Homo sapiens: one gene and its partners. The main gene of each other region encodes a partner of the protein of the gene in region 3 in a complex. Each region holds a gene or a part of one and is shown on either strand. Other genes may lie near its edges.

Region 1 (6,913 bases), on a different chromosome or scaffold from region 3:
AAGTTTCTCTCTGAAGCCTTTCCAGAGGGTCCGCATCCACATCACAAAGAACAAGCAACATGGTGTAGTAATGAAGAGTGCCGATCTCAGTGTTCAGCAGATAATCCCCTCTATCTTACAGCTCTACCAGCAGCATAAACTCAAGGAAGTTATTCAAGGTCTCTGTGCCCCAGTTTCCTCATCTGTAAAATCAGGATGCTAATAACACCTTCTCACACGAGAAAAAAATGAGATAAAGCATTTAACATCACACCAGCAGAGTAAGTACTCATTACCTACCATCATCAGTGTTTCCTTCTCAGTGTTCTATGGTACCTCCTGGGGACTTCTACCTTAGAACCCACAGTACTTTATTATGGTTCACCTGCACACACACAGACATCTCCTCTACTAGAATGTCAATAACCTCAGGATAGGGACCCAATTTTACTTCTTTTTGTATCCCCAAGGTCTAACATTTTGCTTGGCACTGCTGAAATGAATCGTAGATCCTCGAAGTATTTATTAACTGGAAAAGTTATTAGCAGAAACTGGAATTTACCTCCCTTGCCTGGTACTCAAGCCCTCACTGACTCTGACCCCTACCGCCCCTCCAACTTTACGTCCTTGTACCCTGCTAAAAGAAGCAATGACTTGCATGACTCAGGCTGTAAACTCACTCACCAGTCTAAAACCATGCCTCAAGCATTATACCTTTGTATCTTATAGCTATTTATTTCGGGGGACTTTACCACGTACCAGGCCCTTTATCCCCATTAGTTCAATAAATATTCACAACACTCCATGTGGTCAATATTATTCCCTAACCCAACCCCTAGTTGAAGAAAGTGATGCTTGGAGTTATGTGTCGAAGGTCACATATCCTGTAAGAACAGGGACCAGGAATTGAATCCAGAGTCCATGCCTATTTTCTATAGACTGTCTTCTCTGCTCATATTCAAAGCTGAGCTAACTAACCTACCTGCCATCTCCTTGCCTTGGAAGAGCACAGTCTTTACATTTAAAAGATTTCTGTACCATTCATTTTAACATTCATATGTTTTGTCCTATATAACTTTTGGTTTCAATATGTACTTGCATAAAAAGAGGGAGATGATGTGAGAAAAAGGCAAGACATGTAATGGAAAAAGCACAGATTTAGGCATCAGACAGACCTGGGTTTGAATCCTGGCTCTGTCTCCTACCAGCTGTGTAATTTATTATGGGTCTTCCTAATCTGTAAATTGAGGTTAAAATGATTAAACAATAGAAACCCCTATATAATACCCAAATACTCAAAGTTTAGTTTACCTCAAATTATGAAGCATTACCTGGCCACATCCCATCCCTCAAAGGTGAATAACCCATTCCCCTCCCGCACCTACCACTGTCACAAGAACTCTCACACAATGTACTTATCACGGTGTTAGAATTATTCATTTCCCTTATCTCTCTTTCACTAAATTGAGCTCCCTGGCAGCAAAGACTGAATCTTATATTTATCTCTAATTGCCTAGCATGGTACCTGGCATATATATACATATCCATATTCAGTAAACATTTGCTAAGTTAAATAATTGTAGATAAAAATGAGCGCTTATAGAATTCTAGAGGAAAAATCATTTCCAGGTGGGGTTGTCCTGAATTGGTTGGGTGAGGCCAACTCAGCTGAGCCGTGGGAAGCGTCTCAATAGACTGAAAGAGAAAAGGGGAAACCTAGGCAAGGTAGGGAGAATGTTCTACAAAAATCAATGGAATAGGAAAGAACAAAAATGATTAGAGATCCTACTTATTCAGAGTAATGGATCAGGATGGGGTAATTAAAGAAGGAGACCTTTTCAAGCATAACTGGAAAGGTAACCAGGAGCCAGATTAGGAGATGTAAGGGGGTGTAAGTGCAGTCTGGGACACACAGTAGTTGAAGGTAGGCATGAGCACACAGATGAATGGGAAAGGGCTACCAGCATGCCCCAAATCCCGCAGGTGTGTAAACTGAAAAACATGAAAACAATTATTGCTTCATCAAGAACTCTTTCCGTGTTTACTAGGTACCTTGTGTGGGCTCATAAAATATAAGGAATAAAACCCATATCTAGGCTTCTGCTCAAGTGGGTTTTAACATTACGGATCCACCTCTCCTGCTTGTCAGAGAATGAGAACGCTGCTTTTTTTAAACCAATGGGTCTCCATTTGACTCTTCACACCTGGGAAAGTTTTGAACTTTGCCGATTTGGGTTTATAACAACATGGTGCTTTGTACAGTGCCAGGTACTGTGGTGGGCTTCCAAAGTGACTTTCATTCATTCAAAAGGAAGTTTTAACCAATTTCTGAGTCAATTTGGGGGTCTCTGGTTAAAGTCATAATCTTGTTTACGCTACAATCTCTTTTTCCCAGCCTTAAACAAATCTAAATGACTCCTTGCCACTCCCATAAACAAAGAATGAATCAAAGTTCCAGCAGCACTGTAGCTAGAAAAAAGTCTGTAAGGCTGTTAACCTCTTTAAGGGGGAGGGGGAGAAGGGACGCAAGGAAACAAGGACCACACAGTCAATGCTTGAAAACCTTGATTTTCACATTATGAAGACCAGGGCACCTAGATATTGCCAAGTGCAGGCCCAGAAACTGCCGGAGTCAACTACACCCCCCACCCCCACACTACCAGGTCAGCTGGCTTCTTTTCCCCTAAACCACACACCCGCCTCAGACTCCTGACAGCCTCCAGTTCTGGAAATGGCCAGGAAACGAACGCGCCCGGGCCACCTGAACAAGGGCCCGGCAGGCGGCCCGCCGGGCAGCGCTGAAACTGGAGGGGTGAGAGGGCCGCCAGGTGGGCAAGCTGGTGGGCTGACGGACGGGCGGGGAGCTGGCGGCTGGGGCAACCTTTACCTGAAGCTGCTTCCACACTACGGGCCGGGTCGGCCCCGGGACACGTTCCTGAGGGGAGGGCCCGGCTCCCCCACGCCTCCCGGCCCCTGCCCCGAGCTCTGCACTCTCGGGATCCACGGGGACCGGCGCTCCTCCCGGCCCGCTCAGCTGCCGCTTCCCGGGTTAGCCCTCATGCCCCTGCTGCTCGCCGCCGCCGGCCGGCCGAGCAGCAGCCCTATTACCCCGAGCCGCACACGACCCGGAACCACACCCCGGCGTTCCGGAAGTCCCCGACCGGGAAGGAGCCTCTGGCTGGGGACGTAGTGCGCAAGCCCCAGAGCTGAAAGCAAGGAGCGGTAGCTTCCCGCGGGGCGGGGCCGGGAGGGAGGCCGGGCGCATGCGCGCCGCTTCTCCAGTGCAGGGAAAGGCCTGGGTCGGAGACTGAGTTCTGGCAAGATGCGCCAGTGCCTGGACTTGCCTTGAGCAGGAATCAGTGTTAGGCTTCTCCATCGAATCTTCTTTCTCCCCATTTCCACGGAGAAAAGCCCTTAGTTCGTCCAGAAATGAGTGATGAGGCAGCTCAGCCTCTCTGAGAAAGACCTGGGTTCAAATGCCAGCTCTTATAACTTGCTGTGTGTCCTAGGATGTGACACTTCTCTCTGAGCCTCGGGTTTTCCCATCCAGGGCAATAGTTTCAACTTTAGAGTATATTGCTGTGGGAATCGAATGGGATGATGCTTGAAAAACACCCAGCATAGTGCCTGACACATAGTAAACATGCAGTCAATGTTAGTTATTTCTCTTATTATAATATCTGTAATATGGAGGTGACAATAATCTTCCTCAAGCCCTGCTGGGAGGTTTCCAGGAGATGTAGGAGGACTGGCACAGGGCAGAAGTTCAGTGTGTCTCATGCTGCTCCCTTCCTCTCTCACGGAGGAAATCAGTAGAGAAAGCCACGATGAAGGGGGAAAAAGGATTCAGGGAGTGCAGTGAGAGTGGTTCTCCCACCTGAAAGATGCTTGGGGAAGTCTCTCAAAAACGCACCTTAGCAAAAGAAAAAACTCAAGGTTGAATTTCAGCCCTGAGGGACCCCTGCCCAATTTTAAACTTATTAATAAATATGCCATGGGGCCAGGCACGGTGGCTCACACCTGTAATCCCAGCACTTTGGGAGGCCGAGGAGGGCAGATCACTTGAGATCAGGAGTTCGAGACCAGCCTGGCCAACATGGTGAAACCCTGTCTCTACTAAAAATACAAAAATTAGTCTGGCGTGGTGGTGTGCACCTGTAGTCCCAGCTACTCAGGAGACTGAGGCAGGAGAATGGCTTGAACCCGGGAGGCAGAGGTTGCAGTGACCCAAGATCAGGCCACTGCACTCCAGCCTGGGTGACAGAGACTCTGTCTCAAAACAAAAAAACAAAAAACACGGTGGGTCTACCCATGTATTTCAAATATGGTCATCCATCACTTAATGATGAGGACACAAGAAATGCATCGTTAGCTGATTTTGTGGTTGTGTAAACATCATAGACTGTACTTACACAATGTCAGAGCCTACTACACACCTAGGCTGTTTGGTATTAGCCTATTGCTTCTAGGCTGCACACCTGTACAGCATGTTACTGTACCATATACTGTAGGCAATTCTAACACAATGGTATTTGTGTATCTAAACATCTCTAAATGCAGAAAAGGTACAATTAAAAGACCATGTTATAATCTTAGGGGACCACCATCATATGCACTCTGTCATTGACCAAAACATCCTCATTCCACGCATGACCATATGTGATTGATCTCTTACTACATCCCATTACTTTATGTAATTGGTATCTTACCACATATCTATACTGGGGGAATAGTGCACCTCAGCACCCAGACACACTCTTGCACACACACCACCACAGTTCCATCAGGGACCTGTCAGAGGCACTCTAACAAAGCAGCAGGTGTGAACAAGTTTGGATATTTGATTTTCTGAGGTCACCAGGTTATCTGTTCCTTCCTAAATCTTACTCTCCATTTTCCTCTCTCTCTCTCTCGAGTTCCAATCTGAAGCACAGCTGCCTGACTGTCTCCTAGACACATAAAACTCGACCTATCTAAAACTGCTAAGCAGTTATAGATTCTAAAGAGTAAATATTTCCTAGCACTTTGAGAGACCAAGGCAGGAAGATCATCTGAGCCCAGGAGTTCAAGACCAGCCTAGGCAACATGGTGAGACCCCATCACTACCTTAAAAAATTTATCTCTATATAGGCCGGGCACGGTGGCTCATGCCTGTAATCCCAGCACTTTGGGAGGCCAAGGGGTGCGGATCACAAGGTCAGAAGATCAAGACCATCCTGTCTTAACATGGTGAAACCCTGTCTCTACTAAAAAAAAAAAAAAAAAAATACGAAAAATTAGCCAGGCATGTGGCACACACCTGTAGTCCCAGCTACTTGAGAGGCTGAGGCAGGAGAATCGCTTGAACCTGGGAGGTGAAGGTTGCAGTGAGCACACCACTGCAGCCCAGCCTGGACAACAGAGTGAGAGTCTGTCTCAAAAAAATAAAAAATAAAAAAATATATATATACACACACATATACACATATATTTTTTTTAGCCAGGTGTGGTGGTGAATGCCTGTAGTCCTAGCTGCTTGGGAGGCTGAGATGGGATGATTGCTTGAGCCCTGGGAGGTCAAGGCTGCAGTGAGACGTGATCATGCCACTGCACTCCAGCCTGGATGAAAGAGCAATGCCCTGTCTTGAAAAAAAAATTAGAAAAATAAAAAGTGAATACTCACTCTGCCACTTACAAGTTTTGTGACTTCATCTCTCCAAGTTGCTTCTCTAAATATTCTTATCTTTACCTGGAAAATGGGAATGACAGAAGTCCTACATAACCTCATTAGTTTGTTGCAAGGATAGAATGACCTAATACATGTAGCTTACATATAACAGAGCCTGGCATGTGACTATTATTTACTAATGCCTACCAGTATGAGTATACCTCAGTCAGTAAGCAATACTTATTGAGTGCCTATTGAGATTCAGTGGTGAAAAAGCCAGACGGGGACCCTACCCTTAAGAAGCCTTGTAGTCAAGTTCGACTATGGGTTTGAAATACTGTAGTTACTGTGGTAAGTTGGCATGCAGTGATATATGGTAGGATTTCAAGGACAGTATTGAGGGCCCAGTTGAGAATGGAGACTAAATGTATGGTGATACTAATATGATGGCTAGTGTGATTATTCTATAGCTAGTTGGAGCAGTCACGATACACACACCCAAAGAATGAGAAGTTGGATTGATCCAAGGAAGGATTTTGCCAGACAGGTGTGATGGGGTCATATCAGCTTTTAAGAGTGCTTAAAACAATGAGCCATAGAAAGTATGCTGGATAGGGAAGCAAGAGAATTCCAGAAAAACAGGTATCACTGGCCTAAAGGTCTCAAATAGATGTAATGGAAGTCACTGATGAAGGAAAGCAGAAGGATGGAGGTTATTGTCACAGATGGATGTTTCAACAAATAACCTCAGAGGAGGAGCCATGTGAGAGGGGGTCCCAGCTAAAGTGGAATGGGGGGAAAATCACTGAAGATGAGATAGTCAAGGAACTGAGATCCTTGTGAACGTCCATCCCAAGATGGTGGACAGACATGGGGTGAAAAGGAAACCAGACGTGCTCCCCATGGCATCTGCAACTGAGGAACAGCACTGGGGAGGTAGATGAGGAGGAGAGAGGAGAAACTAATTGGATGGCATGAGCCTCCAAGAAGCAGGAGTTGTATTGGTGGAAGTGTCATTAAAGCATACATTGACCTGTCTCCTGACCTGGGGTGTACAGTGGTAGGACCATGAGAGCTAACACACATACAAATTTTTTTTTTTTTTTTGAGATGAAGTCTCGCTCTGTCGCCAGGCTAGAGTGCAGTGGCACGATCTCAGCTCACTGTAACCTCCGCCTCCCAGGTTCAAGCCATTCTCCTGTCCCAGCCTCCCGAATAGCTGGGACTACAGGTGCCCGCCACCATACCCGGCAAATTTTTCTATTTTTAGTAGAGACGGGGTTTCAC
Region 2 (7,056 bases), on a different chromosome or scaffold from region 3:
CGAGGAGCCTAGTGGGTGGGCATGGGGCGTGTCCAGCAGCAGCCACTCCATCCAGCAGCCCCTCCCCTCTCCAGCCCCCAGCCCAGGCAGGTCCCCTCCCGGGCCAGCAGGCCCTGCACGCACGTGGAGTCGGGGCTGAAGCGACACTGCAGGGCGTAGCGCGTGTGGGCAGGGATCTTAGTCTTGGGGATGAGCTGGGTCACCTCGTCACCAATGCCCCCCGTCAGATTCCAGACATAGCAGTTTCCCTAGAGGTCAGGAGGACCGTCACGGAGGGCCCAAGGCCTCAGGTCTGAGACACAGGGAAGGATGCCCTGGGGGCCAACACTGGGGGCCAACTGTGCATGGGGACCCCGGGTGAGGGGCAGGCAGGCCCCTCTGGTCCTGCCTGCAGAAGGCACCTGGGAAGCCTGGCCCCAAGCAAGGGCCACACCTGGCAAGCCAAGAACAGGAGGCCACGCCTGGCCAAGGACTCAAATTCTCCTTCCTGGAGGATGCCGATGGCCAACGGAAGTAGACAGGAGAAGGGCACCAGCTAGAGAGACAGCATGACAAAGGCCAGCAGAAGGGAAATCCGGGGGCAAGAGGTACAAGTGATGCACTGGGATTAAATGAAGTTAATGAAAAAAAATGAGGCTGGAGAGAAGAGCAGGGGCCACGCCACAGCAGCCTACGGGCGAGGCCAGCAGCCCCGGGTCTCCTCAGGGGAATGACGCCACCTGGCTGATACTGACCAGGCACCACTAGAAGCATCCAAGAGAGAACGTGTCAGGGGCCAGGGGAGGTCAGGGAGGGGGAAAGGAAGCCTCAGAGAGTGTGTCAGCCGTCACCAGAAACAAGGGTGACTGGGACCAGGAGGCAACAGAGTGAAAAGAGGGAAGTGGATCGACTTGGGAGAGACTCCAGAAAGCGGAGTGACCGACCTGCAGACAGGACTAAGCCATCGGGAGCGACACTAAGGCTTCTGGCTTTGCTGGCAAGGTGGGTGTTAGTGCCCGGGATGGGGAAAGCAGGAGGGGGCCGCTAAGGGACATCCAGGAATAAGCCCACCTGCAGAGGCTGAGGGCTGAGTGCCAAGCTGCCCGCACCCAGCACCTGCCACCAGGACTCACGGTGCTATTGACAGCTGCCATGTAGCTGGCGTCGGGATCGATGTGGGCGGACGTGATGGAGACCTCGGGCTCAGGGATCAGCTGCTCGTTGTGGTCTGTTTTCAAGTCCCAGATGTGGATAGCCCCGCTCTGGTCACCCACGATGAGCTCTGCCTGGGGTGCAGGGGTGGTGAGGCAGGGCCCAAGCCCAGCCCTCCAAAGTCCCAGGGTGCCTGGCCCCATGAGCACCCCTCACCTGGTTGGGGTGCAGGCACACGCAGTTAATGGGTGCGTTCACCTGGAAGATCCGCTGGCACTGCAGGTTCCGGGACCTGCGGGCCGGGCCGGGGCACATGCTGTCCATCTGGGCTTGTTGGTGCCCTACCCAGATGGCCTCGGCCTGGCCATTCCTCCCCTCCCTCTGCTGAAGGACCTGCCTCTTGGGAAATACTTGGGACGCAGGGCCCTCTGCTCCAGCAGGGAGCCTAAGCCAGTGGCTGGTGGAAGGGGAATAACAAGCTGGCTCCGGGCTCAAGGCAGGACTCGCGCTCTGATGCAATTCACTCTCCTCCTGTCCTCACTTCTCTCAGTAAGTCGCCCACAGGAAGCTCCCTGTCTCAGCCTCTGCTTGAAGAGAACCCAACCTAAAACGGTCTCCCAGAGCAGCCCACCCCAGCCCCGGGCAGCACGCCCCCTCCCCACCGCACCTGAGGTCCCAGATCCTGGCTGTGCAGTCCTCGCCGCCCGTGTACATCCAGCGGCCGTCTTCGTGGAAGCCCACAGACGCGATGTTCTTGTTGACGCCGTCGTAGCTGATGATGGGGTTAGGGTTATTGGAGTTGAGATCATACATGCGGATGTGCTGGTAACCTAGGGACACAGGCTGAACTGAAGCTTGGCTGTGCTGAGGTCGACCCACCAGAGCTCAGGAGTTTAGAGATCAAGGATCACAGATACCTGCAGCAGCAATCATGCTGCGGTCCGGTGTGACCTCCAAGGCATTCACCTGCTGGGACTGTTAAGGAGGATGACGGGAAGGTAGCCCTGAGGCCAGGGCCCCCCAGGCCTCCACCATCTGGCCTTCACACAGGCTGTGGTCCCCACACGAGGCATCCCCCCAGCGCCGCCCTGCCCGCCCCGGGTGGAGGATACGGAGTCCTGGTGCTGCACCGTCCGGGTGCAGATGCCGCTGTGGGCCTGCCAGAAGCGCACGGTGTGGTCGTAGCCTGCAGTGGCCAGGATGACCGGGTCACTGCCCACCGTGCCTGGGGAGGTGTTCATGGTGTGGCCTGCACGGGCCCTAGAGCTGAACGGCAGGGGTCAAAGGTCAGAGCATCTGCAGAGAAGGATGTGAAGTACTTAGAAGACACTCTCTGTGCTAAGTAGATTATAGACCCACAAGGCGCTGCCGAATGGCGCTTATCATTCCCATTTTAGAGTTGGGACAAGAAGCGCAGGTAGGTTCAGGGACACGCGTCACACGCGTGATACCTGGCTCCGGGGCTCCAGGGCGCGTGCTCCATCCCCGCCCCACGCACACGGCGGGGGCGCCGTCCCCCCCCCACCTCCGCAGCCGGCAGGGGGGAGTCACGCGCGGGCGCCACTCTGCCGCAGGGGCGGGCTGCGCGTGCGCAAGGCGGCGGATGGGCCGGGGAAAGCCGAGCGCTGCGGCTGCGCATGCGTAGCAGGCCAGCGGCAGGCCCTGATGGGAAAGGGCGCAGTCTGGCTGGACCCCCGAGCTCCCCTTTCCTCCGGTGACCGCCCTTGCTCCGTCCTGCTGGCCGGCTTCCCCTGGCCGTGCTCTCCCAGCCACCCAGCAGCCGGTTCCCGGCCCCTGGCTCGCGGCCTCCGTACCTTACGGGCGGCTCCGCACTCCGCCGTGTCCAGGACGGCGAGGGGAGCCGGAGCGAGTCGATCGAGGCCGAGCGTAGAGTTATCGATGGCTCCCTAGGGCGAGACCATGGCGCGGGCGGGGGTGGGTGGGACGAGACCAAAGTTCTGGGGCGGGGGGTTCCCGCCGGGAGGAACTCGGAGCGGTCCCCGTGCGCGGCCGCGGGCCCGGCGCGAGGTGGAAGGAAGCTGCGGCTTTCTCTCCGGCCTCCTGCCCACTGGCACCTGCCCTTCTGACACGGCTGTCCGTTTCCCGGGCTGTCGGGTCGCGCTGTTCCGGTGCCCTCCCTGACCCACTACTGCGCCACGCTGGGCTAGGATTGGCTGAAAATTACAGGACTTGAATTCAGACAAGTAACGAATAATTTTTTTTTTAGTGTAAGTATATCCAGGACATTGCATGGGAAATACTTATGCTAAAAAAATTTTATTGGGTATCCTGTAGTTTTACTTGCTAGATCTGGCACCCCAGCCCCAGCCTGACCCTCAGGACATCCCACTGAGCCCAGGGTCCCCCTCAAAACCACAGGCCCTCATTCCAGCTCTGTGAGCTCCACGCCGGTGCCCTCACCCTTGAGACAGGCTGTCGCATGGTTTTTTCCTGCTGCTCTTACAGACCTGGCTGCACCCCTTCCTCTGGCCGCAGAGGGGGTGCATCTTGTCCCTTGACCAGGCCATAGTTCCCATGGAGCCTTCCTTCCTATACCTTCACCTCCTCTCCTTCCTGCCGGTTAGCCTTTAAAAAAACACCATAAAACAATCCCAAATTATCTTCTTCAAAGAGCGGTCCTCACCATTTTTCTAGTTCCACGTCCTCACCTCCCACTCATTCCGCAACCCCAGTCATCTGCCTTTTACCCCCAGCTCTCTAGCTCTCCAGTGGAAATTCCTCAAGGTCACTGACAATCTCACTTTGCTAAATCCAGTGGATACTTTTCCTTCTTCCCACCTTTTTTTTTTTTTTCTCTCGAGACAGAGTCTCGCTTTCTCGCCCAGGCTGGAGTGCAGTGGTGCAATCTCGACTCACTGCAAAACCTCTGCCTCCCAGGTTCAAGCGATTTTCCTGCCTCAGCCTCCCGAGTAGCTGGGATTACAGGCACGCACCACCACACCTGGCTGATTTTTGTATTTTTAGTGGAGACGGGATTTCACCATGTTCGCAAGGCTGGTCTCAAACTCCTGACCTCAAGTGATCCGCCTACCTCAGCCTCCCAAAGTGCTGGGATTACAGGCGTGAGCCACTGCGCCCGGCCTCTTCCCACTTCTTCTTTCTTTTTTTTTTTTTTTTTATTGAGACGGAGTCTCGCTTTGTTGCCAGGCTGGAGTGCAGTGGTGCGATCTCGGCTCTCCACAATCTCCACCTCCCGGGTTCAAGCTATTCTCCTGCCTCAGCCTCCCGGGTAGCTGGGATTACAGGTGCATGCCACCACACCCAGTTAATTTTTCTATTTTTAGTAGAGACAGACTTTTCACCATGTTGGCCAGGATGGTGGATGGTCTTGATCTCGTGACCTCGTGATCCGCCCCCCTCAGCCTCCCAAAGTGCTGGGATTACAGGCGTGAGCCACTGCGCCCGGCCCCCTCCCACTTCTTGACGCATCTGAGCCATGGTTGACGGCACCATGCCTGAAAGGCTGCCTTCTCCTAGCTCCTGTCCCCGACATTTAGTCTCTTTCCCTGCCTGCCCGCAAGGACTCAGGCCCTTCAGCATTCACTCTGTGCACCCCACGAGATACCAGGGGGCTGATGACTGCTAGCTCTGGAGCTTCCAATGCTGTCCCTGTCCTGGGCCCCTTCCACCCTGTCTCCAGCTCTGATGGCCTCAGCTCCCTGTTAAGACACTGTCCCTTGAATGCCCCGCAGGGTCCACCATATTCCAGGGCCAAGACAACCCATCCCTGAGTAGCTCCCCTTCTGTGGGCAGTGCCCACCTTGTATTACAGCTGGGCAAGATCCGACACCTCCCCTCCCTCACCCTTCCCTTCCCTTCAGCCACCGATTTTACCTGTGATATACCTTCCTGTCCTTTCCACTGCCCTGGTTCTAGCTCACCACCCCCATCCCCCATAAAAGCCTCCTTCCTTGCCCCAGCCACTCTGGCCCCCTTCCAAACTGTCCACCACAGTGCAGAATGGCCTTTTATTTATTTATTTATTTATTTATTTATTTATTTATTTATTTTTGAGACGGATTTTCACTCTTGTTGCCCAGGCTGGAGTGCAATGGCGCGATCTCGACTCGCTGCAACCTCCACCTCCTGGGTTCCTCAGTCTCCTGAGTAGCTGGGATTACAGGCATGCACCACCATCCCAGCTAATTTTGTATTTTTAGTAGAGACAGGGTTTCTCCATGTTGGTCAGGCTGGTCTTGAATTCCTAACCTCAAGTGACCCACCCACCTCAGCTTCTCAAAGTGCTAGGTTTACAGGCGTGAGCCATCGCGCCCGGCCAGAGTGGCCTTTTAAAAACCTCAGTCTGAGCCCAGCACAGTGATTCATGCCTGTAATCCCAGCACTTTCGAAGGCTGAGGCAGGAGGATCACTCGAGCCCAGAAGTTCAAGACCATCCTGAACAATATAGTGATACCCCATCTCTACAAAAAATTTAAAAATTAGTCAGGAATGGTGGTGCGTGCCTGTGGTCCCAGCTTTGGGAGGCTGAGGTGGAAGGATCACTCGAGGCCAGGAACTCGAGGCTGCAGTAAGCTGTGGTTGAGCCACTGCACTCCAGGCTGGGTGACAGAGCAAGACCTTTTCTCAAAACAAAACAAAAACCCCCAGCAAAACCTAGGAATGACTTGATCACCCCATTAGAAGCCCTCAGGGGTCCCTGTCCCTCTCCAGACTCCTGGGCCTGGCCCTGGCCCTGGCCCATCCTGTGGCTTCCATCTCCTCTCCATGTGATACCATTAGGCTTTGTGTCCCCACCCAAATCTCGTCTTGAATTGTAATCCCCATAATCCCCATGTGTCAAAGGAGAGACCAGGTGGAGGTAACTGAATCATGAGGGCAGGTTCCCCCATGCCGTTCTCATGATAGTGAGTGAGATCTCAAGAGATCTGATGGTTTTATAAGGGGTTCCTCCTCCTTTGCTCCACTTCTCCTTCCTGCCGCCTTGCGGAGAAGGTGCCTTGCTTCCGCTTCGCCTTCCGCCATGATTGTAACTTTCCTGAGGCCTCCCCAGCCATGCTGAACTGTGAGTCAACTACACCTCTTTCCTTTATAAATTATCCAGTCTCAGGTGTTCTTTATTGCAGTATGAAAATGGACTAATACTCCATGGGTCCTGTACTCTGGCCAAAGGAGACATGTTCTCCTCTTTTGTTTTCTTTTGTTTTGTTTTTCAGACGGAATCTCACACTGCTGACGGGGATGGAGTGCAATGGCGCAATCTCGGCTCACTGCAACCTCTGCCTCCTGGGTTCAAGCAATTCTCCTGCCTCAGACTCCTCCCAAGTAGCTGAGATTACAGGCACCCCGCACCACGCCTGGCTACCTTTTTGTATTTATAGGAGAGACGGGGTTTCACCATATTGGCCAGGCTGGTTTCGAACTCCTGATCTCGTGATCTGCCGCCTCGGCCTCCCAAAGTGCTAGGATTACAGGCGTGAGCCACAGCACCTGGCCATGTTCTCCCCTTTGAGCCCTTGACTGTGTCTGGGATGCTTTTCCCTCTACGCCTTACCTGCCAAATTCCTGGTTTTCAGCATATCTAGTAACATTTTCTTTTGGCTGGGCATGGTAGCTCACACCTGTAATCCCAGCACTTTGGGGGATCGAGGTGGGAGGATCGCTTGATCCTAGGAGTTTGAGGCTAACCTGGGCAAGATGGCAAGATGACCTCTTCTCTGCAAAAACCTTAAAAAAAATTAGCTAAGTGTAGGCCAGGCGCGGTGGCTCACGCCTGTAATCCCAGCACTTTGGGAGGCCGAGGCCAGTGGATCACGAGGTCAAGAGATTGAGACCATCCTGGCCAACATGGTGAAACCCCATCTCTACTAAAAATACAAAAATTAGCTGGGCATGGTGGCACACGCCTGTAGTCCCAGCTACTCGGGAGGCTGAGGCAGGAGAATC
Region 3 (7,211 bases):
GTCACCCAACACAGATCTCCCCCTAGCCCTTGTCAGGCAGGGGATTCTAAAAAGGTTGAGAGATCTGATTGAGGAACATTTAGAAAGCCTAGATTCATTAAACAATGACTGATGTTTAAAAGAGGCAGTGTAGTAGGGAGGTTAAATTGTGGGCTATCGGCCTAGCCTACTTGGGTTTGAATCCTTGGGTTATATACCTTGAGCAGTTTGGGAGGCTGAGCCTGGAGGACCACCTGAGGTCAGGAATTTGAGACCAGCCTGCCCAACATGGTGAAAACCCATCTCTATGAAAAATACAAAAATTAGCTGGGCGTGGTGGCATGTGTCACCCAGGAGGCTGAGGCAGGAGAATCCCTTGAACCTGGGAGGTAGAGGCTGCAGTGAGCCGAGATCCTGCCACTGCACTGTCTCAAAACAAAAACAAACGAAAACAAAAACAAGGTTATATACCTCAAGAAAGACACTCAAAATGTGTTTCTTCAACTACAATAGGAAGATAATAGTACCTAGTTCATGGGTTGATGTGAGAACTAAATGACTTAATACGTGTCAAAAAGTGTTTAAAACAGTGCAGGGCATATACTAAGTTCTTAATAATTGTTAGCTATTATTATTACTACTACTACTACTATGTACATGGCAAAATGCCAGGTAACAAATGTCAGGAGGTAGGGAAAGAATTAAAAATGACTAAGACTGCCCCTTTCCTCAAGTTCAGTCTAAAAAGAGAGATTATTATTCTACAGCAGCACTATCTAATGGAAATTTAGGCCGGGCACAGTGGCTCACGCCTGTAATCCCGGCACTTTGGGAGCCCAAGGTGGGCAGATCACCTGAGGTCAGGAGTTTGAGACCAGCCTGGGCAATATGGTGAAACCCCGTCTCTACTAAAAATACAAAATTAGCCAGGCGTGGCAGTGCGTGCCTGTAACCCCAGCTACTTGGGAGGTTGAGGCAGGAGAATCACTTGAACCCAGGAGGCAGAGGTTGCAGTGAGCTGAGATTGGGCCATTGCACTACAGCCTGGGCAACAAGAGCAAAACTCCATCTCAATTAAAAAAAAAAAAAAGAGGAAATACAATGATCCACAAATGTAATTTTAAGGCTGCTTGTAGCCATATTTTAAAAGGTAAAAAGAAACAGGTGAAATTAATTACCTAAACCAATATATCCAAAATATCATTTCAACATGTTATCAATATTTAAAAAATTGATATAGTGTCCATTCTTTTTTTTTAGCGAGTCTTCAAAATCTAATGTGCATTTTACACTTACAACAATGTCAATTTGGACTAGTCATTTTTTTTTTTTTTTTTGAGACAGAGTCTCGCTCTGTCACCCAGGCTGGAGTGCAGTGGCATGATCTCGGCTCACTGCAACATCCACCTCCCGGGTTCAAATGATTCTCCTGCCTCAGCTTCCCGAGTAGCTGGGACTACAGATGTGCAGCACCACGCCTGGCTAATTTTTGTGTGTTTTTAGTAGAGATGGGGTTTTATTATGTTGGCCAGGCTGGTCTCAAATTCCTGACCTCAGGTGATCTGCCCGCCTTGGCCTCCCAAAGTGCTGGGATTACAGGTGTGAGCCACCATGCCCGGCCTGGACTAGTCACATTTCAAGTGCTCCACAGCCACATGTGGCTGGTGGTTCTTGTACTGAACAACGCAGTTCTACAGGGGACTAGCTCTTCAAATGTAAGCTAAAAGAAAGTAATTAGTTCCTGGCCGGGTTTGGGAGGCCGAGGCGGGCGGATCACGAGGTCAGGAAATCGAGACCATCCTGGCCAACACGGTGAAATCCCGCCTCTACTAAAAATACAAAAAAAAAAAAAAATTAGCCGTATGGTGGCGGGCGCCTGTAGTCCCAGCTACTCGGGAGGCTGAGGCAGGAGAATGGCGGGAACCCGGGAGGCGGAGCTTGCAGTGAGCAGAGATCGAGCCACTGCACTCCAGCCTGGGCGACAGAGCGAAACTCCGTCTCAAAACAAAACAAAAAACACCAATTAGTTCCTGAGCTCATTCCCTCATTCCTCAATTATGCCCACACTGCCATGGGTGTAACATACACCTATCCCAAGTATGTTCAGCTTATGCTACAAAACCAATTTCTCAAAATTCTTATTTTTGAAAGAATTTGTAAGGCACAGAGGAAAAACCTGGGAATAATTGGTTTTGTAAAGCTTTCAAATACTCCACTGCCAAGAAGAAGACTGCAGAAAGAAATGTCATCCTTTAGGGGAGAAGAAACTTAAGAATCCCTGCTAAGAAAACTACTCCAGTTTGTGTGTATGTGTGTGCGTCCGAAAGGGGGGAAGGTGGCTGGCAAGGGATTTCTATTCTCAGGAAAGAACCAGTGTATCTTTATATGATCTGAGGCCCACAGGCCATCTGCTCCAGACTGAATTCAATTAAACTTAGGATATCTGAAGTCAAATATCCTAATGGTGTTGATAGGGCTTAAGGAAGTTAAGATTGGATGGGGGAAACAGGGATGGGGCTGGGGGAGAGGGAGAGAAGATGTACCCCAACGATGTAACCAAGCTCAGTTTCGGGGACTGGATCTCTGAGAGGTGTCCACAGTGGAGGACAAGGGGCTGACACGGACGCTAGTGTTCCCTGGGGCAGAGATACACAATTTTTATACGTGGCTCAAAAGAAAGGGTGGCTGTGACAGGCAAAAGACCCAAAGGGCAATACCAGAGCTGATGGGCCGGCCTTCGGGCGGACGTACCGCGGGCCGAAGGGTCCAGGGGTCTCTTGGGGGTCCCGGGGAGGTGGGCGTTGCCTCGAGGGGTGGGAGTCAAGGCCTCAGACGGTGCCCAGGTCGTGGGGCCGGCAATGTGGGGACCCCACGTCCCAGACGGGCGGCTTCCCCTGGCCCCCCCACGGGCAGGCTGGCCGTGGGTCTGGACATTACGCCGCCCTAGAGGGGTCGTGCCAGGCCCTAGACTCACCGCGCGGCTTCGGCCAAGGCCTCAGCTGCCGCCGCCAGCACCGGTACCGCCGCTTCAGGCCCCCTGCCCCACCGCCCGCCTTCCCCGCTGTCCTCTAAGCCGGGAGCGAGGGAAGGAGGGTTCCCAGCCCTGAGGACCAATCGACAGGTATAGGGAGAAGATGGACTGAAAAACAGGCCAATAGTAATGAAGAAGAGAAGCTTCAGGACCCGGCTTCTCCAGGGGGCGGGGACTGTTCAAATAGACAAACCACGCGGCCAGTGGCAGGTGAAAACAGGCTTGGGTCCACTCGGGAGAACCAATCGGTCGTGAGTTCACCTCAGTCACTTCCACTCACACATCCGGTACGGCGCTGCTAGGATTCCCTTCTGCATCCGGGCTGTGAACTCAAGGAGTCCGGTGTCTGGGTATCTCCGGATCGCAGCGAGAGCGGCTAGCAGAGGTTCGCGACCCCTCCCGGTGTAATTCTGAGAGGAGAATGTGAGCGATGCCGGTGCCCAGGAATTACTGCATCAAAAGACGTTTCGGGCTAGCGCTCTTTATGGATCCTGTGATATCTCTTTTGTTACAATTAATAAGCATTTGAAAATGTTTTTAATTAGATTCTCTAACTTTCCCAAAATTATCCAACTCAGGATCACTCCAGAGAAACCATAGCCAAGTTTTAACCAAAAGAGCTAGTCATAAATAAAAATTTTCAAAGCAACATTATTTTTTAAAAATCCTTTCAAAAAATCAATAGCTGGCCCGGCGCGGTGGCTCACGCCCATAATTCCAGCACTTTGGGAGACCGAGGCAGGCGGATCACCGTAGGTCAGGAGTCGAGACCAGCCTGGTCAACATGGTGAAATTCCCCCACCCGCACCCCCCGTCTCTACTGAAAATACAAAAATTAGCTGGGCATGGTGGCTCACGCCTGTAATCCCAGATACTCGGGAGGCTGAGGCACGAGTATCGCCTGAACCCGGGAGGTGAAGGTTGCATGCACCGAGATCGTGCCACTGCACTCTAGCCTGGGCAACAGAGCAAGCTCCGTCTCAATACATACATACACACACACACACACACACACACACACACACACACACACAACCAAAGAAAATAAATAACTGCTGGTCACGGTGGCCCACGCACTTTGGGAGGCCAAAGCAGGAGGATCGCTTGAGGCCAGGAGTTCCAGACCAGCCTGGGCAACATAGCGAGACGATGTCTCTACAGATTAAAAAAAAAAAAATCAACAGCAAAAGTGGATTTGACTACATTTTTTTTTAATCACAGTGCTATTTGTCATAGTAAACACTGAAAATTCCTAAATATTTCAAAGTAGGAGTCCAATAAAATATGATGCATTCGTTTGGGCGCGGTGGCTCACACCTGTAATCCCAGCACTTTGGGAGGCCGAGGCGGGCGGATCATGAGGTCAGGAGTTTGAGACCAGCTTGACCAACATAGTGAAACCCCGTCTTTACTAAAAATACAAAAAAAAAAAAAAAAAGGTAGGCGTGGTGGCAGGTGCCTGTAATGCCAGCTACTCAGGAGGCTGAGATAGGAAAATCCCTTGAAGCCAGCAGGCGGAGGTTGCAGTGAGCCGAGATCGCGCCACTGCGCTCCAGCTGGGGTGACAGTGCGAGACTCCATCTCAAAAAAAAAAAAAAAAAAAAAAAAAGATGCATTCATAATAAGAAAAATACATAGCCATTAATAATTATAATTTAGAGCCTAGCATGGTGGCTCATCCCTGGAATCCCAGCACTTTGGGAGGCCGAGGCAGGATTGCTTGAGGCCAGGAGTTCCAGACCAGCCTGAGCAACATAGTGAGACCCTTGTCTCTACAAAAGAAATTTAAAAATTAGCTGTGTGTGGTAGCACATGCCTGTAGTCCCAGCTACTTGGAAGGCTGAGGCACGAGAATCACTTGAGTCTATGACTTCAAGGTTGCAGTCATCTGTGATCTCCACTGCACTGCAGCCTGGGCAGCAGAGAAAGATCCTGTCTCAAATAATAATAATAACAATAAATAGTGGTAATTAGATGAATATTTGCTAAGAAGGAAAAGGTTCACAACTAGTTTAAAAATTACAAGTTGTGCAACAATGTAAGTATAATACAACCATTTACAAAAATATTTATGCATTTCTTATATGTCTCTGTTTACATGGGGGAAATGTGCACAACTAAGATGTAATTTGGGAAAGACACACTTTTTTTCTTTATACATTATCAATTACTTATGTAATAAAAACAAGTGAAGGTAGAAGAAATGAGTTTTCAGAAGGTCTAAACTGCCAAATTAAAGATAGTTGGGCTGGGTGCGGTGGCTCACACCTGTAATCCCAGCACTTTGGGAGGCCAAAGCAGGAAGATTGCATGAGCCCAGGCATTTGAGACCAGCCTGGGCAACATAGTGAGACTCCATCTCAAATAAATAAATAAATAAACAAATAAAGATGTCAATATTCCGTGGCTAACAAAATGCTTTGTTTGGCAGGGTTTTTGTTGTTGTTGTTGTTATTGTTAATATCTATGATATTGGCCAGGCACAGTGACCCAACACTTTGGGAGGCTGAGGCAGGTGGATTGTTTGAGCCCACCTGGGCAACATGGTGAAACCTCATCTCTACAAAAAATGCAAAAAATTAGTTGGTGTGGTGGCATGCACCTGTGGTCCCAGCTACTTAAGAGGTTGAGGTGGGAGGATCACTTGAGCCCAGGAGGTCAAGGCTGCAGTGAGCTGTGATCTCACCACTGCACCACTGCATTCCATCCTGAGTTGACAGAGTGAGACACTGTCTCAAAAAAAAAAAATTATATATATATATATATAAATATATATATATATATAATTGCTCCTTTTTTTTGAGACAGAATCTTACTCTGTCACCCAGGCTGGAGTGCAGGGGAGCCATCTCACCTCACTGCAACCTCTGCCTCCCAGGTTTAAGCGATTCTCTTGCCTCAGCCTCTCGAGTAATAATGGCTACTTTAGATTTAGCCTCTTTTCATTGCTCCTGTGAGATAAGTATTCCTCTAAATTTTACATTTTCACTGATGTTCAATTTTTTTTTTTTTTTTTTTTTTTAGATGGAGTCTCGTTCTGGTACCCAGGCAGGAGTGCAGTGGCGCAATCTCGGCTCACTACAACCACCGCCTCCTGGGTTCAAGTGATTCTCGTGCCTCAGCCTCCTGAGTAGCTGGGATTACAGGCACCTGCCACCACACCCAGCTAATTTTTGTATTTTTAGTAGAGACAGGGTTTCGCCATGTTGGCCAGGCTGGTCTTGAACTCCTGACCTCAGGTGATCCGCCTGCTTCAGCCTCCCAAAGTGCTGGGATTACAGGCGTGAGCCATTGTGCCTGGCCCAACATCTATATTTTTATCATTAAAAGCTTCTAATATGCAATATAGTCGCTATTCAAATCTCAAAATAAACAAGTTACATTTATCATGAAAAGTCTTGCTCCACCCTTGCCCCTTGACTATGTATTTTCTCAGTTTCTTATGCATCCCTAGATTTTCTGTCTGCAAAAACAAGCAAATATATACGTATGTATATTCCTTTTTTTTTTTTTTTTTTTTTTTGAGACAGAGTCTCACTCTGTCGCCCAGGCTGGAGTGCAGTGGCATGATCTTGGCTCACTGCAACCTCTGCCTCCCAGGTTAAAGTGATTCTCCTGCCTCAGCTTCCCCAATAGCTGGGATTACATGTCTGTGCCATCATGCGTGGCTAATTTTTTTATTTTTAGTAGAGACAAGGTTTCACCACATTGGCCAAGCTGGTCTCAAACTCCTGACCTCAGTTGATCCGCTTGCCTCAGCCTCCCAAAATGCTAGGATTACAGGCACGAGCCACCATGCCCAGCCCATACATATATTTTTATTTTCCCCTTTTGTTATACTATACGCACTATTTTGCATTTTTAAAATTTTACTGCATCTTGTAGATCTTTCTCTTGTAGTTCCAACAGGATTCTATGCCTGCTGCACAGCAACAGTTGACCAATGCAATGAGACAGCAGAGTCTGCAGCAGAGAAAGAGTTTAGTGATCGCAGGGCAGCCAACTGAGGAGATGGGAGTGTTACCAGCGCTGAATTTACATGGTCTGCAGCAAGCTCAGTTCTTGCCTCCTCAGAAGAAAGAATTCAACTGAGGGGCATAAGGCAGAGTGAGAGACTGAGGCAAGTTTTAGAACAGGAGCGAAGTTTATTAAAGAGCTTTAGAGCAGGAATGAAAGGAAGTAAAGGACACTTGGAAGAGAA

Evidence for each region.
Region 1: MTOR (region 3) and MAPKAP1 share a complex: the UniProt entries of both Homo sapiens proteins name them as parts of the mechanistic target of rapamycin complex.
Region 2: the proteins of MTOR (region 3) and MLST8 are in contact, whole or in part, in a crystal structure (PDB 4JSV), measured with the Homo sapiens proteins. Residues at the interface, in NP_001373429.1 of Homo sapiens: Leu2269, Arg2270, Met2271, Ala2272, Pro2273, Asp2274, His2277, Leu2278, Thr2279, Leu2280, Met2281, Gln2282, Val2284, Glu2285, Val2286, Glu2288, His2289, Asn2292, Asn2293, Glu2536; in NP_001186102.1 of Homo sapiens: Tyr20, His22, Asp42, Ser43, Gln44, Val45, Asn46, Tyr62, Asn87, Glu105, Gln148, Thr174, Arg221, Tyr222, Leu224, Ser268, Arg270, Gly271, Trp272, Trp274, Ser290, Lys313, Val316.

What each region holds. Positions count from the first base shown.
Region 1 is NC_000009.12:125,704,105-125,711,017, forward strand, and holds the start of MAPKAP1 (target of rapamycin complex 2 subunit MAPKAP1), read right to left. Parts: upstream 3,105-6,913; 5' UTR 2,867-3,104; intron 1-2,866. UniProt on the Homo sapiens protein: Component of the mechanistic target of rapamycin complex 2 (mTORC2), which transduces signals from growth factors to pathways involved in proliferation, cytoskeletal organization, lipogenesis and anabolic output.
Region 2 is NC_000016.10:2,201,402-2,208,457, reverse strand, and holds the start of MLST8 (target of rapamycin complex subunit LST8), read right to left. Parts: upstream 3,005-7,056; 5' UTR 2,946-3,004; exon of another isoform or gene 2,771-2,945; coding exon of another isoform or gene 2,583-2,770; intron 2,428-2,582; 5' UTR 2,398-2,427; coding exon of another isoform or gene 2,373-2,397; coding exon 2,244-2,372; intron 2,101-2,243; coding exon 2,049-2,100; exon of another isoform or gene 1,980-2,048; coding exon of another isoform or gene 1,962-1,979; coding exon 1,799-1,961; intron 1,424-1,798; coding exon 1,348-1,423; intron 1,266-1,347; coding exon 1,113-1,265; exon of another isoform or gene 434-1,112; intron 249-433; coding exon 124-248; intron 9-123; coding exon 1-8.
Region 3 is NC_000001.11:11,259,492-11,266,702, forward strand, and holds the start of MTOR (serine/threonine-protein kinase mTOR), read right to left. Parts: upstream 3,061-7,211; 5' UTR 2,954-3,060; intron 1-2,953. UniProt on the Homo sapiens protein: Serine/threonine protein kinase which is a central regulator of cellular metabolism, growth and survival in response to hormones, growth factors, nutrients, energy and stress signals.